Homo sapiens: one gene and its partners. The protein of the gene in region 2 purifies or fractionates together with the protein of the main gene of each other region. This does not show direct contact. Each region holds a gene or a part of one and is shown on either strand. Other genes may lie near its edges. The genes, in order: FGFR2, EDAR and NDFIP2.

Region 1 (2,964 bases), on a different chromosome or scaffold from region 2:
AAGAGCCTGGCTGAAGTGCAGGAGAAGTTGGCCTATGTTCAATTCCCTTTCCTGCTGCTGATGAGGCTGGCAAGTAGATACAACAGACCCTTAAGAGTCACAGATTCACATTTGTTAACTGACAGGCAAAACTCCATTTCCCTCTTCAGATCGTTGGTGGTATGAAAATAAATAATTATTCGAACATTTGTCCAAGTTTTCTTTTGGAAAATTTGAAGCAAATCCTTCTCTCCATACATCATGAAGAAAACAGCCTAAAAGGTTTTTAAGTCCCCAGGATTCAGATGTTCTGAACGTCTTCCCTACTCAATACCTGTCATCCTTAGGTCACCTTCCAGTTTGCAAAGCTCTCTACCATGTGGCTCTTTGTTTGCTCCTCTGGGGAACTGGTAGGGCTCAGAAAGGAACGATGATTCCATTGAGGTGCCAGTAAGCAACCGAGCCAGGGCTCCAACCAACTGATTCAGATTTTCCACTGGATCAACCTCAACCTGTCACAGGTACTGCTGGTCTCAGTCAACCCCTCTGGCAAGTCACCCCCGTGTGTAGCACATAAGACCCTTGGCAGCCCTGCCCTTCCTGCATTCACAACAGCACTCAGTCAGCACCTCCAAGCACAGGAAACCATTTGGTAAGACACGAGTATTAAAAAAATAAGTTGCGTGACATTTATTTTGTCTTGTTAACATTAATATCTGTAGAAACATTTTTATTGTCAGTATAAAAATTAACAGGTTTTATTAAATACTTTCTCCAATTTTGTAACACATAAGATCAGTGTAATCTGCATTCATCTTGCACGGCTATTGCAAAGTGAGTGGGTGTTTCCAAAGCAAAACACAATACTTTAGTACAGAAGGAACAACGGCGATATTTTGTCTGATGTAGGTATGAGGCTGGATCTTTTGGTGAGGTCCTGCCAGAATTAGATGAAAGCAATCCCTTAAAAAGATGGACGTATCCCCAAAACTATCAGCAGAACAACTCTGTGTTTCAATTTTCTATGATGGGACTTGAAGATCCTAACAGGCGTCTCCAACGCCAAAGAGTCTGGAAGCCATTATCAAAATTCACTGAAGAGAATACAGGCTAATCTGATTAATGTGCAACTCAGAAGCAGAAGGCCAGCTGCCAGAGAGAAGCACATTCTGCTATCATTTCAACTAAGGTCTGTCCTCAAGGAATGGATTAAGGCATCTTTTAAGAGGACGCTGGTACCATTTATCTTGGGAAGTCCAGTTAGACGTTGCGTTGACGTAATGACAGGGTTGCACACCAAAATGAAACACCTTCCTATGAATGAGTTCTTTTAATATGGGGCATTTAGGAGGTCTAAGAACAATCGTCTGACAGCAGCATTTAAACACAAATAAATCAAAACTTCATTTTCCCCAAATTAGTCATATATTGTAAATATTCTCTTTTCAAAGGATCTGATAACTAGTTAAGTCCAAGCAATAGATTAACTAGTCTGCTGTGCTGCCTGCATAGAAATGCCACTTAAATTACAAAAAAAACTATAAATGATTAATTGTTTTGTATATTACCAATTTATTAATAAATTAACGTTATACCATTTTCCCTGAAAGCAAAAGTATTTTTCCACCTCTGCTCGGTGAAAATTAAGAAATTATGTGTAAGAACAGCATTTAGCAAATAGCTATTAAAAAAAGAGAGACCAATTTTCTAGGTGCATTGGGACATCCATTTAAAATCAATACAAAAAATAACTCCTTGTAAATATATAATATATATTTATACATAATTTGAATATATTTACATACATCCAGCACCTATATACTGCATTTGTGCTCTGTAAGTGTGTGCTGACATAAATCTTCTCCAATTATTACAAAATTAACAAGGAAGGCAGAACGCACGTCCACCTTGAGTCCTACTGGTCCACAGCCAGTACGCACGGCAGGTGAGAGGGGTTACATGGTGGCTTGTGGCAGTCCACTGCTCCAGAAACCTTCTTCTCCTCCTGGGGAAGATTACAAGTTTTCAACTGTATAAATCTTTACACATATGCTGATTACTTTTCCAATTATTTACTCCTCTGATCCATATATACAAGTGGAGACAACAAGCTCTGGGAGGCATGGTCTCCCTGCTCAGTGTAGCTAGGTTCCCAGTGCTGTCCTGTTTGGGGACAGGCAGACACAGTCATTCATGTTTTAACACTGCCGTTTATGTGTGGATACTGAGGAAGGCATGGTTCGTAAGGCATGGGGTCTGGAGAAAAAACAGAATCATCTCCTGAAGAACAAGAACTTCTTGTGTCAGGGTAACTAGGTGAATACTGTTCGAGAGGTTGGCTGAGGTCCAAGTATTCCTGAAAGAAGGGAAGAGAGACGTTTTATTTCATCTTGGGTCAGGATAACAAGGTGAATACGGTTCGAGAGGCTGACTGAGGTCCAAGTATTCCTGAAAGAAGGGAAGAGAAGAGTTTTATTTCAAACACAAACTCTTGAGATGTGGGTATTGGACGTGGGACAGGACAGGAGACCCCTAGAAGGTGAACAGAGACCCAGCCCACCTGACTTCCACGAAGACCTCCCTGAGACCACGTCTGATGTACCCCAGGCTGTCCTTAGCTTTTCTCTTGGAATCCATCATAAATCAACTATTGACAGGTAGAGAACAATAAAACCTAGTTGAGCTATAGGTGCTGGGCAGGCAACTCGGCTTCACACGGACCTAAATAACCCGCTGAGTCTACACCACCTCCTCACTAGAGCCCTTGCTTCAAATGCGAGCCCCAGCAAAATGAAAACCGGTAACATGTTGTGGGTCCCCAGACCCCCTTTAAGTAGTTGAGACTATGAATATTTATTTTCTGAATTACATTTTACTATTGTAGTTTCGGGGATAATTGAAGGGGAATACTTCTTCATTCAGTGGGTAATTTAACAGATGTAACTGATTACTCTCAGAAGCTCTCCGAGTTGAAAATGTAAACAG
Region 2 (3,657 bases):
AAGATGACAAACATTCACAGACAGCCCACGGCTGTTCTTTTGCTCTGACAGTGTATCTTAAGCTCCCTTGAGCGCCTTACTGAACAGATAGATCAGCTTCTTTTCAATCTCTTGTTTGCTCTTATAAAGGAAATTAGGTCATGCTGGAAACTATGCCATGATGCCCCTATGCTCACTCACCTGATGAAGTGTGGGAGGCTACCCCCCAGCAAACAGAAATGGGCACACAATCTGAAGCCTCCTTATCACACTGGAGACTTCCAGAGCAACTTCAGTAAGGTCTGTGAGGGGGAACGCTCTGTTGTTTGACATGGGCTTGTGGCTTTCAGCTAGGGGCACGCACTTCTCCACCAGCTCTTTTTTTATTTTTATTTATTTTTTATTTTTTTTTTGAGATGGAGTTTCGCTCTTGTTGCCCAGCATGGAGTGCAATGGCGTGGTCTCGACTCACTGCAACCTCCGCCTCCCGGGTTCCAGCGATTCTCTTGCCTCAGCCTCCCCAGTAGCTGGGATTACAGGCACCTGCCACCAGGCCCAGCTAATTTTTGTACTTTTAGTAGAGTTGGGGTTTCACCATGTTGGCCAGGGTGGTCTCAAACTCCTCTTAGGTGATCCTCCCGCCTCGGCCTCCCAAAGTGCTGGGATTATAGGCATGAGCCACCGTGCCTGGGCAGCTCTTTCCCTAATAAGAACACTGGTTCTGAGGCCAAGTAAGAGGCTAAATTAAGAAAGCAAAGATTTATCATAAGTTTGAGGCCCACGAGGAAAAAAGCCTCCATTCATCATCCAGAAACACAAGGAAACATCATTTGCCCCTCAGTGGACAGGTGATGTTTCTTACATACCCTATGACATAGCTGCCCTGGTCCCTCCCAAGCCCAATGTTTCATTGGCCAAGCTTCCAATTTGCTTTACAAGGTGTGAGGACAGAGAAGCATCCAGCCCATTCTCCTGTGGCCCTGCTCCATTTAGAGCAGACACGAGTGGATAGCTCAGCTGGTCACTAGCTCCTGGGCTGCCCCCACTCACAGAACAAGAGTGTGCGTTTCTCCTGAGAACTTCCTACTAAAGAAAACAGCCAGCCCAGGCATGGATTACAGGCTCACACCTGTAATCCCAGCACTTTGGGAGGCCAAGGCAGGTGGATCACTTGAGGTCAGGAGTTCAAGACCAGCCTGGCCAACGTGCATTTTTCTCTATAAAAAATACAAAAAGTAGGTGTGGTGGCACACACCTGTACTCCCAGCATCTCAGGAGGCTGAGGTGGGAGGATCACTTGAGCCCAGGAGGCAGAGGTTGCAGTGAGCCAAGATCGTGCCACTGCACTCCAGCCTGGGTGACAGAGTGAGACCTTGTCTCAAACAAAACAGAAAAACAGTCCAACTAGGAAGCTTGCTTCTCCCGGAAGCCTTGCTGCATGGGCTGACCAGGCACAGTGCTGGGCCATTCCACTGGGCTGGGCCAGGCTGGGGAGGTACCTTGATTTGGGGATGGCAGCTGGCCTTGTCCTTGACTCAGGGGCTGCTTTTCTGTAGACCAAGTGCACTTCACGGATTTCTCCAGAACTGGTAGAGACAAAAGTGAGAGAGTGGGAGATGCATTTGAAGCATGTTGGCTTTATTATTTGCAAAACTGAAGTCTGGCCCAAAAGAAGGTTGATCTTCTTTTAGGAGGTCTGGAACAGGACGTGGTCTCTTCTGTGGTGGAATGTTTTTGTTTTGGCTGAATGGTTGCGTCTTAGTGATTTGACTGAGAGCAAAATCAGCTTCCATTTTATCCCCGCTAAGTCACACTTTTTCCATAGAAGGGGAGTTGTGGGAAGCATAGCTTTAAGGGAAGGCAAAGCACACCTTGCTCTGAAACTCTTTGGTCACAACCATGTAAAAACATGTCTGAGGAAAAATCCTAGGCAGAAATACAGCAAAAGTCCACTTAGCCAAGGAGGCCATGGGTAGTTCTTTTCCTCCTTTCTTGTGTTCTTATTTTTCCAGATTTTTATTTTTATTTTATTTTTATTTTATTTTTTTTTGAGACAAAGTTTCACGTTTGTTGCCCAGGCTAGAGTGCAGTGGTGTGATCTCGGCTCACTGCAACCTCCACCTCCCGGGTTCAAGCGATTCTCCTACCTCAGCCTCCTAAGTAGCTGGGATTACAGGCATGCGCCATCATGCCTGGCTAATTTTTTGTATTCAGTAGAGATGCGGTTTCACCAGGTTGGCCAGGCTAGTCTTGAACTCCTGACCTCAAGTGATCCACCCACCTTGGCCTCCCAAAGTGCTGGGATTATAGGCATGAGCTACCGCGCCCGGCCCCTTTTCTAGATTTTTTTTTTTTTTTTTTGAGACGGAATCGCACTGTGTCACCCAGGCTGGAGTGCAGTGGCGCAATCTCAGCTCACTGCAAGCTCCGCCTCCTGGGTTCACGCCATTCTCCTGCCTCAGCCTCCCGAGTAGCTGGGACTACAGGCGCCTGCCACCACGCCCGGCTAATTTTTTGTATTTTTAGTAGAGACGGGGTTTCCCTGTGTTAGCCAGGATGATCTTGATCTCCTGACCTCGTGATCCGCCACCTCTTGTCCTTCTAACAAGAAGAACTCATACCCATACTACGTAAAGATAGCTATCGCATACACTTTTATCACCAGCCTCCTTCCCACAACAATATTTATATGTATAAATCAAGAAGCTATTATTTCAAACTGATGCTGAACAACAATCCCAAAGTGCTGGGATTACAGGCGTGAGCCACCATGCCTGGCCCCCTTTTCCAGATTTTTAATAGTGAGCATATATTACTTTTATGACTGGAAAAAGTATTAACACATTCCTACTCTATGTAATTGAAGGAATTAGTCAAGTATTGTATCACCCTAATAGTACTTTCATGTACACACTCTATGTTGCTTATTTTTATGGATTTCATATACTTTGTCTCCACGCATAGGAAAATTGAGTTGGTGAGGCTTGCAAAACTCCCCAACCCACACTGTTTAGTTTTAGCAGACTTATCACATGAGTGTTTTCATTTAAAGAACAATAACCAGCCGGGCGCGGTGGCTCATGCCTGTAATCCCAGCACTTTGGGAGGCCGAGGCGGGCAGATCACAAGGTCAGGAGATCGAGCCCATCCTGGCTAACATGGTGAAACCCCGTCTCTACTAAAAATACAAAAAAATTAGCCAGGTGTGGTGGTGGGTGCCTGTAGTCCCAGTTACTTGGGAGGCTGAGACAGGAGAATGGCGTCAACCAGGGAGGCAGAGCTTGCAGTGAGCCGAGATCACGCCACTGCACTGTAGCCTGGGCAACAGAGCAAGACTCCGTCTCACCAAAAAAAAAAAAAAAGAACAATAACGATGACTCTTTAGGGTTCATTAAACAGTCTAAGAAATACAAATATTTAGCTCCCCTCAGCCATCACTGCCTCAGGCCCATTCATGATCATGAATCCAGATCCATGAGCTCTGTGGCAGCGTCTTTGAAGGTGGAGCTTCTCTGGATCATTTGAGGGACTCTATTTTCCTTGCAGGTGTGGGAGCCACTTCAGGAGCTTCTGCCAACTTCCCTGGCACCTCGGGCAGCAGCACCCTGTCTCCCTTCCAGCACGCCCACAAAGGTGAGGAGGGTGCTCAGGTATCGATCACCTGGAGTTAGGTGGTAC
Region 3 (3,657 bases), on a different chromosome or scaffold from region 2:
AAGATTGACAGCAGCAGAATGTTTGCAAGTGTGTGGAGCAACCAAAACTTCATACATTGATGGTGGAAGTGTAAAATGGCATAATGACTTTGGAAAAAAGTCTGGTGGTTTCTTATAAAATTGAAACATACACCTACCCTATTACTCAGTAATTCCACCCATGGAAAATAAAAACATATGTCCACAAAAAGATTTGTACAAGAATATTCATTCCTATCAGCTTTACAGAAAGATTTGTACAAGAATATAACAGCTTTACTCATAACAGCAAAAGAAAACTAAAAACCCAAATATCAACAGCAATGGATAAACTGCAGTGTATTCATTCGATTTATACGATGAAAACTATATGATAAAAAGGGATGAGCTACTGATATACACAAAAACATGGATCAATCTAAAAAACTTCATGCTGAATGAAAGAAGCTTTGTAGACTACATGCTGTATGATTCTAGAATAGGCAAAACTAGGTAATTTGAAGTGAAAAAATCAGAACAGTCACCTGGGGGGTATGAATTGATCTAGTAAGGATAATAAGGGAACTTTCTAGGGTGATGGTAATATTCTGTATCAGGTCATTAAATTTATCTGTAAAGGGCAGTGGTACAAACTGAATGTTTGTGTCTCTCCAAAATGTATATGTTGAAACCCTAATCGCCAGAGTGATGTTATTTGAAGTTAGAGCCTATAGGAGGTAATTAGGTTTAGATGACGTCATGAGGGTGGGGTCCCTATGATGGATGAGTGTCTGTGCTAACATCAGAGAGCGTACTTACACAAATCTAGATGGTATATATAGCCTACTACATACTATGCCGTATGGTCTAGCCTATTGCTCCTAGACTACAAACCTGTACAGCACGTTATTGTATTGAATACTGCAGGCAACTGTAAAACAACAGTATTTATCTAAACACATCTTACAGGACCCCAGTATATAAGGTCCCTCATTGAATGAAAAGACATTATGCAGTACATGAATGTCCTCAACCCTACCACCGTAAATGAATGGGCATGGCTGTGTGCCAATAAAATTTATTTACAAAACCAGGAGTTGGACCACAGTTTGCTGATCTCTGCTCTACATGTCAAAGGTGGTTTGGGTTACATGAGTATCTGAATTTGCCAAAGTTCATCCACTAGGCCATGTAAGATTTGTGCATTTTAATATACATTGATTTTACCTCAAAGAAAAAGAACCATAAACAAATATTAAAATGTAGGCTAATGATAAACATGTGGCTTGCATGCAAGTACACTGATCCCTGCAACTTACTTTGAAAGGATCGAAAAATAGATGGATTGATAAATACACAACAATACAAATAGAATAAACTGTTAACTGTAGAGCCCACAATTTGTATGGAGGTTAACTGTACAATTCTTTCAACTTTTTTAAAAATTTGGAAGTTTTAATATTAAATGTTATTAAATGTTGGGGGCAGATTCAGTAAGGGGCCACTGAAGGTTTTTGAGCAAAAGAACAAAAAATTTATACAGGTTGAGTATCCCTTATTTAAAATGCTTGGGACCAGAAGTGTTTTGGATTTCAGATTTTTTTTGGATTTTGGAATATTGCATATACGTAATGAAATATCTTGGGAATGGGACCCAAAGATGAACGTGACTATATGTGCATGAAACAAAGTTGTGTTGAATACGTACATGTGGTATTTTCCACTTGTGATATCATGTGGTGTTCAAAAAGTTTCAGATTTGGGGGCATTTTAGATTTCGGGTTTTTGGATTAGGAATACTCAACCTATATTCTACAAATATGATTCACACGATGCAAACAATTCCTGAAGGATGGTCAAATGAGGAAGAAAGTAACAGACAATATTCCATGCCAGGTAATGCATCAATATTTAAGGAGAATGGATTAAGTACAAAAAGAGTTCACTAAGACAAGAAAAGTCAGAAAAAGTCAAGAGAAGTAGAAAGCTTCTTATTAACTGTATCAGGAATAAGGACGGAGTTTCAAAGAACATTCATACTGTCAGTATAACAGAGAAATCAAGCAACATGAGAACTGAAAAGTAGCTATCAGACTATGCAGTTGGGTAACCTTGATTATGTAAAAGAGGTGTGGTAAGAATATAAGCCAGATAAAGTATACTGATAAATTCAAAAGAAACAAACAAGAGACGATCAAAGGAATAAGGCTGGCAAGAAAAGGTGACAACTAGAGAGTAAGGAAAGGTAAGAGCCTGCAACACTTCTTTCCAGTGGAAAATGAAATGAGTATAACTAAAACTCATTATACATTATCTCATCCAGAACATGTACTATTCAGTAAGGCAGTCAGCCATGGGCCTGAATGTCCCTGCACATTCTTGCTGAGTGTGTGTAAAGCTTTCCATTTCCTCATACTGAGCTGTTTCTTCTAATAAGTTACACAGGGAACAAAGATCAGGCAACCACAGTGTGTAACTGCCATCCCAGGAGAAGGTGAACTAGTTTGTTTGTTGTTTGCTAAGATATTTGCTGCTTGCTTTAAAAAAAAAAGAGCTGCACCCTTGGTTCTGAGTTTCTGAGTTCCTCAGCTGTGATGCAAACCCACTGCACGAATCCATATGGACACCCAGCCCCTCTGTGGAATTTGGTAGCTAGGAAAACCTACACAAATATGCTGATGTTCGTGCTGCTTGCTATGTCATGAGTAATGATCAGTCTTTAACCTGGAGGTCACCTCTTTTTTGCCAGAAACCGTGAAACATTAACACACTAACTTATTAGCTTGTAAAAAGGGTACTTATTTATCATGTACCAGTCTTTACATGTTTTACACATGTATTATATTATTTCTCACAATAATCTTTGTCAGGTAGATACTAATATAAGGAAACTGAGGCTTCAAGATGTAAAGTAACTAAGCAAGGTCTCACAAATTGCAAACAGCACAATCTAATATATAAGCCCAGATGGCTTTAAAACCTGTAGGTTTTTTACCCGTTAATAGTCAGGCCTCCTTCAAGCCTCCTTCTCAGCTAATTTATCGAGGGCAACTCTAATTCCCCAGATACAAGAGCAAAGTACTCAGATCTTTGTAGAATGAATACTTCAAATTATGTTCCATAGAAAATTGATATTGTAGAAATGTTAACATAATCTTAAAATTTTAAAAACAAAGAACAAAACAAAACAAAGATTAGGAAGAGCTAGGTTAAAGAAATCCAAATCACTGTCTTTACTGCAGAATTTTTCATGGTTTTAATATGCTAATGTATTATAAATCTTCCAGTTACACTTACTATCATTCTGAAATACAGTTTGGGAAATTACTGCTACAATCAACACTGCCAATTTAACTTGTACACAGAATAAGAAGTCAGCTTGGTACAGGTACAATCTTAGAAGTCAGCTTGGTACAGGTACATAATCCTTTAAAATAGAGAACTTTGGCCGGGCTCTGTGGCTCACACCTGTAATCCCAGCACTTTGAGAGGCCAAGGCGGGCAGATTATTTGAGGTCAGGAGTTCGAGACCAGCCTGGCCAACATGCTGAAACCCCATCTCTACTAAAATACAAAAATTAGCCAGGTGTGGTGCACCACACTTGTAGTCCCAGTGACTCAGGAGGCTGAGGCAGGAAAATCACTTGAACCCAGGAGGCGGATGTTGCAGTGAGCCGAGATCACGCCACTGCACTCCAG

What was found.
Region 1: the proteins of EDAR (region 2) and FGFR2 purify together in Homo sapiens (affinity purification with mass spectrometry; one large-scale study listed by BioGRID and IntAct). This does not show direct contact.
Region 3: the proteins of EDAR (region 2) and NDFIP2 purify together in Homo sapiens (affinity purification with mass spectrometry; one large-scale study listed by BioGRID and IntAct). This does not show direct contact.

The regions. Positions count from the first base shown.
Region 1 is NC_000010.11:121,477,687-121,480,650, forward strand, and holds the end of FGFR2 (fibroblast growth factor receptor 2 isoform 1 precursor), read right to left. Parts: intron 2,428-2,964; coding exon of another isoform or gene 2,365-2,427; exon of another isoform or gene 2,336-2,364; coding exon 2,171-2,335; 3' UTR 1,985-2,170; coding exon of another isoform or gene 1,895-1,984; 3' UTR 646-1,894; downstream 1-645. UniProt on the Homo sapiens protein: Tyrosine-protein kinase that acts as a cell-surface receptor for fibroblast growth factors and plays an essential role in the regulation of cell proliferation, differentiation, migration and apoptosis, and in the regulation of embryonic development.
Region 2 is NC_000002.12:108,912,633-108,916,289, reverse strand, and holds part of EDAR (tumor necrosis factor receptor superfamily member EDAR precursor), read left to right. Parts: intron 1-3,525; coding exon 3,526-3,612; intron 3,613-3,657. UniProt on the Homo sapiens protein: Receptor for EDA isoform A1, but not for EDA isoform A2. Mediates the activation of NF-kappa-B and JNK. May promote caspase-independent cell death.
Region 3 is NC_000013.11:79,484,062-79,487,718, reverse strand, and holds part of NDFIP2 (NEDD4 family-interacting protein 2), read right to left. Parts: intron 1-3,657. UniProt on the Homo sapiens protein: Activates HECT domain-containing E3 ubiquitin-protein ligases, including ITCH, NEDD4, NEDD4L, SMURF2, WWP1 and WWP2, and consequently modulates the stability of their targets. As a result, may control many cellular processes.